Regions from separate parts of the Homo sapiens genome. Here region 1 is linked to region 2. Evidence: fine-mapped expression QTL. A gene starts in region 2. The other region holds a variant in brackets. All regions are shown on one strand. Distances are from middle to middle.

Region 1 (2,900 bases), 21 kb before region 2:
GCGACTTTGAAGGGGATCAGTCTTAGGAGGCAAAACACCCCAGGGCTCGACCCCACTCAAGCACAGCCCAGTCATTCCCTACCGTCTTTTGGGGCTCCTTTCCCTCCAGTGAACCGTAGGTGGCTTCTTGGGAAAAGGCAAACACCTTGGCCCTTTCCTTGGGGGTGTAGGCTCACTAACCCCACAAAGAGACCACTCAAGGTAGGCCTGGCTCTTGGCAGACAGGAAGGGTTATCACGGGCTGGGCTGTGTGGAACTTTCCACCTTCAGCTTGTGCGGTCTTCACGCAGGAGGTCCTGAGGGCTCACACTTCACAACGACTGGAGTCCCTCACAGACATCGCCCTCCAGGGGTGGGCAGAGCAAGGTCAGCCACCTGCCCAAGGCTGCGCAGCCAGCAAGTGGTGGGTGGGCCTGTGAGCCCAAGGGTTTCCGTGGGGATGGGATACTCAGGGAGGGGTCCTTGTGTGGCACTGAAGGACAAGAGGGCCCCGCTGGTGAGAAGGGAGCAGAAGGCACTCAGGGAGGCAGCAGAGACTGAGGCAGGGCACGAGGCACAAACAGGATCTGGCGTGACAGCACTGGAGGGTGGGATGTGCTGAAAAGGTGGGTAAGGAGGGCCTGGGAGGCCATGCTAAGGCACAGATAATCCAACTATCTCCCAGGTGGCAGGAGGCCGTGGAGTCTTTAACCATGACATGGCGCTGCGTGCACTTCACTCAGCAGGGAAACGCCAGAAGAACTGGGAGCAGCAGCAATGTGCCCAACAGACAAGACTGCATAGATCTTGAAGCGTCTACTGAAAGCTACAGACCCCTTTCCTGGAATATGCACTCACACACAGAGCTGTGTCCGATTCTCGGGATCAATGGCCCCCCAAGCTCATCAGGACCCCTCTTTGGGCCCAGGATCTTATCTCTGGATGGAAGGAAGTGAAGCTGGGGGGAGGGGTCGCAGCAGCCACTATGAGTCCAGGGAAGAGGAGAGTTGCCCTGAGCTTCAAGTTGGCAGAGAAACAGATGGGATGGACACACAGACCTTGAGAAAGAGGGACAGGACTAAAAACTGAGGAAGGAAACAGAGGACATGGGGACCAGAAAGATTCAGGGTGGTTCTCTCCAAGGTACTGCCATGTTCTGGTGCAGGCCCCCGGGATTCCTGTCCTGTCACACCCCCTGCTCCAGGTCCCATGAGAGCCCACAGCCCAAACAGCCAGGGTCCTGACACTATGGGCCAGTAGGACCTGGAAAGGCCCCTTCACCCCAATCTCAGCTCTGCTTCCCACCAGGAGCTGTGGGGTCTGGGGTGGGGGGTAGAGCTCACTTCTCTGCAGCCCAATCTCTGTTAAACCAAAGCTTCAAACTCGACATCTAAGATCCTTCCAAATCTGAGATCTACTCAC[C/T]GAAGTGCAGGGCCCCTTCTAAAGCACTCAGAAGGCTGAACTGGCCCCAGGTTCCCCTTGGGCTGGGAACTCCCACTGCCCCTCTAGGGCTGAGTGTGTCACACTCTAGGAGGATGAAGTGCAGGGGTGCAGTAATGGAAAGAAAGGCAAAATCCACCCACCAAGGTCAACAGCTCCCTCTGGTGAACAGACAGGGATGCTGTCCCTCTGTAGCCCCCAGCTGGAGCTGCCCGAACAAACACGACTTGGCCTCAACGGAGCACCATGTGCTGGCCCAGGCCAAACCCACAGTGGAACAGGCACTGGAGGGAGACTGGTGATTGCCTGCCAGGAGGGACAAAGGGTGGCAGCAACTGTTCTGGCAAAACCAAGTGGAGCTCTGCCCAGCCCCAGGACCTGCCAGGTGTGCGGGAGCCCCAGCCCTGTCCCTCCGGCAAAGAGAGACCACAGGCCGCCTGCAGAAAACCTGTGGGGTGGGGAGAACGGGCTGGAAAAGGAGTTCCAGACCCTGCAGACAAGAGCGAAACCTCCACGTTTGAAACCTCAGAGGTGGCTCAAAGCAGAGTCCTCATGCCTGCGGGGTGTCCAGGGCTGGCATGGCAGAGGGGCCCGCTTACCTGGACGTCCATCATGTGGCTCCGGGGCTCATACTTGGACTGGAATTTCTCAGGCTGCATTACAACCAACTGCCCCTGGGAGACTTTCAAGAACTTTGCTATTTCTGTGCTGAAAGTGTGGTGAAATTTGTAATCTTCTCTCAGGTTGTTAGCTGAAACGTTAACAGAATAAGATGTAATTTTGAAAATTGCCTAAATGTCTGAGATTTAATTCGTTACCCACATCAGCCAAAGCAAATGTTCTGAAAATGACCACTGTAGGCTGGGCGCGGTGGCTCACGCCTGTAATCCCAGCACACTTTGGGAAGCCCAGGCAGGTGGATCACTTGAGGTTAGGAGTTTGAGACCAGCCTGGCCAACATGGTGAATCCCTGTCTCTACTAAAAACACAAACATTAGCCGGGTGTGGTGATGCAAGCCTGTAGTCCCAACTACTTGGGAGGCTGAGGCGCAAGAATTGCTTGAACTGGGGAGGTGAGGTGGACGTTGTAGTGAGCCGAGATCACGCCACTGTGTACTTTCAGCCTGGGCGACAGAGTGAGACTGTCTTTAAAAAGAAAAAAAAAAAAGAAAAAGAAAAGAAAAAAAGTCACCACCAAAAATTGTGTGGACAATTCCTATAACTTAAACACTTGAAAGGAGGTTCGTTTTTAAAAACTTGGTACAAGGTATAACGTCTAAATCCTGGCCGGCCACAGTGGCTCACGCCTGTAATCTCAGCACTTTGTGAGGCTGAGGCAGGAGGACTGCTTAAGCCCAGGAGTTAGTTCATTTATTATTTATTTGAGACGGGGTCTTGCTCTGTCCCCCAGGCTGGAGTGAAGTGGCGTGATTTCGGCTCACTGCAGTCTCTGTTTTCCAAGTTCAAGCCAATTCTCCTTC
Region 2 (2,900 bases):
CGCAGATTCCGGGGCCCACCCCTGCATTCTGCTTCAGTGTATTTTGGGTATCTGTATTTAAATAAACACTATTTAAACAAACATGATTTGGGTAAAGGTCTCAAGACACAATTTGTAAGCAGTCCCGCTATCGGATTCCTTTCGGCAGGTGTTTTTCTCGCCGAGTGTGGGTTTTTACTTCCTTTTCTATTTGGGCAAAGACTCTTTTTGAATCAGTGACCCACGCAGAAGTTACTCAATCTGTTTGAAAGAGTATAAAGTTCACGATTTCCCTACACACTAACATTATCAAAGAGTGTATATTTATATTAGAACAAACTCAGAAGGTTAAAAAGCTAGTGATTAAAAGTAAGGGCAGAGAGGAAGAAGGTAAAGACCAGTACCTGGATGCCTTATTCTCTAGGAATAACAACTTTTCCTTAATTAGCACTTCCTAATCTTCAGAGTTCTTATGTCTGCAGCTAGCTCACTTCGAAGAAAAATGCAGGGACCATGAAGTAGTTGTTACTATTCCTACTGGAGTACGCGCTTCATGGGCAGGGACCACACTCACAATCTTTTCCTCCCAGAACCCAGTACAGGGACTGGCACACAGTAAATGCTAAATGCAGAAGGAATGGTATCTCTAGTTTCTCAAAGGTGCAAACCAAGCCATCCCTTTCTCCAGAATCTATGGATTAATCATTTCCAAATCTACAGACCACATTTTGAAAAGGAATGCTTGCTGTTCCAAAGAACTCGCACTTGTTTCTTCACGCCCTCGCCCCTTCTCTCCAGTGGCTCTCCCTCTCCCTTCCCACTGCCTGGGCGCGTTCGCCTGGAGTTAGCCTGGACCTGACGAAAATCTGTAAATTAAGGCGAAGGACCCAGCTGCAAAAAAGGCGCTCTGCAGCCCTCTCCCAGCCTCGGGTGACAGGGGTCTTCCAGGGCGTCGGAGCCCAAGAGACCCCGGCCACCTTCCTCTCCCGGGAACCCCAAATCGATCCTGCCACTGCCACAGCCACCGCCCCCGCCCCTTCAACTCCGCCAAGTTTACCCCGGGCTCGGCGCCCATCACTAGTTCTGGAGCTGACCGCGCGGAAGCCCGCCCGCCGGGGTCGCAGGGCCCAGGCCCCCGCACAGCTCTGCAGCCCCCGCAAGCACAGCCCGACCCGCGGCGCGCTTGCCGCTCACCCTCGTCCGGGCCCTCGGCACCCGCCACGGCCAGCAGCTGCACCAGCCCCAAGAGCAGCAGGAGCAGGAAGGCTTTCCGGGGCCTCATGGTAGCGGGGGCGGAGCGCGGCCTCCTAGCGTCGGCGGCCGCTGAGCGCACCGAGAACTCGGGGTCTGGCCGACAGCCCGTCGCTCCTTAGCGACGCGGGGGAGCCGGAAAAACCCACGGAAGTCGTCCCCGGCGATTGGCAGGGGGCGGAGGAAGTCGCGGGCCGGCCAATCCCAGACTGACGCCGGCACGGACCGCGCGCGCCTCGGCCGCGACGAGTCGGCTCCGCCGCCCTAGGCCCTCCCTACTCCTGCGCGCGGCCCTCGGCTGCGCGTTTAAAACTCCGAGCCCTAACGTGAGGTGCCCCCTTCTGATTGGCTGCGCCACAACCACCAATCAGCGGCTGCCACTCGGTTTGCCGGGAGCGCACAGGCCAAGAGGGAGAGCGGGGGAGAACAAAGGCGGCGGGCCGGGCACGGGGAGTGCGGGACCTGGCTACGCCTCGGGGCGCTATTGGCAATCGGTGCCGGGGGCGGGGCAGGAGAGGCGGAGCCTGGGAAATGTGGAGCGGGGCGGGGCTCGGCTCAGCATCCTGCGGCCGAACTTGGCAGTAAGAACACGTGTCGGTACCGGAGCGGTGGGGAGCAGTGGCGAGCAGGGCGGTCCTCGCAACCCGCCGGGGCTCTGGGAAGCTGGAGACCAACGCGGGCGGAGGAGCACGAGCCTGTTTGTTGCTAGAAAGGGGCTCCAAGTCCGCTGCATGTTCGTGGCCTTCTTAATTTCTTTTTCTGCTCGAGCAAATAAAAGTTTCATTTCTCTCCGGAGTATTGAGCTAGAGAGCGGGGAAGAGCATGCAGTAAAGTGAATCCAGACTAGAATCTGGGGAAGCCTCTCTCCAAGGTTGCATCTCGGAGAAACAAGCCATCAGATTCTTGTCTAAACTTTGCCTCGTCTTATTTAGTTTTCTAGTGATTTTCTGCAAAAGGAAATACCAGATAGGCAATCTAGTGGTTTACATAGATCTGAATAAAAGCTTGAGGTTTTCCCTCTTGACCACTTTGGAGAAGAAAACTAGGTTAAGATGACGATTTTTGTATGTCAGAAAAGAAGCCTGTAATGTGCATTAAGTTTGAGACTTTTTTTTAACACCTGGGAGTTTGAGAAGGCAAATAGGGAAAAGAAAAAAAATAGAAACTCAAGTTCAGGAATATTTTCTCGTGTGTGCAGATTATTACGTGAGGAAGAAAAAAGGGATAACTCACAGACCTTAGCAATTAAAAATACTTAATTTTTTTGTTGAATGCCTATTAATCTGATGGTTCCTGGTCAATTTTGTAGGGCAGAACATTATGCAACTGTACACACTGATTTATTAGAGTGCTATGAATGTGGGCCACCAGACAGTTCGGTATCATGTTATTTTATTTTTTGAGACAAGAGTCTTGCTCTGTCACCCAAGCTGGAATGCAGTGGCGCCATCTCCTCTCACTGCAACCTCCGCCTCCTGGGTTCAAGTGATTCTACTGTCTCAGCCTCCCGGGTAGGTGGGACCACAGGCGCCCGCCACCACTCCCTGCTAATTTTTATATTTTTAGTAGAGACAGGGTTTCACCACGTTGGCCTGGCTGGTCTCAAACTCCTGACCGACCTCAAGTGATCCACCCACCTCGGCCTCCCAAAGTGCTGGGATTACAGGTGT

What was found.
Region 1: its variant is fine-mapped to the expression of PDIA4 in whole blood (TOPMed, PIP above 0.99).

The regions. Positions count from the first base shown.
Region 1 is chr7:149,006,141-149,009,040 of GRCh38, forward strand. PDIA4 (protein disulfide isomerase family A member 4) reads right to left here. Exons shown (of 10, transcript NM_004911.5): 7 at 2,019-2,170. Among named protein-coding and RNA genes, the nearest start is that of GHET1, 20 kb to the left of the region's middle. The variant C/T (reference allele first, on the strand shown) is at 1,402.
Region 2 is chr7:149,027,148-149,030,047 of GRCh38, forward strand. PDIA4 (protein disulfide isomerase family A member 4) reads right to left here and starts at 1,358. Exons shown (of 10, transcript NM_004911.5): 1 at 1,174-1,358. The coding sequence starts at 1,261. RefSeq lists enhancers at 478-1,072, 1,073-1,666 and silencers at 991-1,040, 1,131-1,200, 1,271-1,850.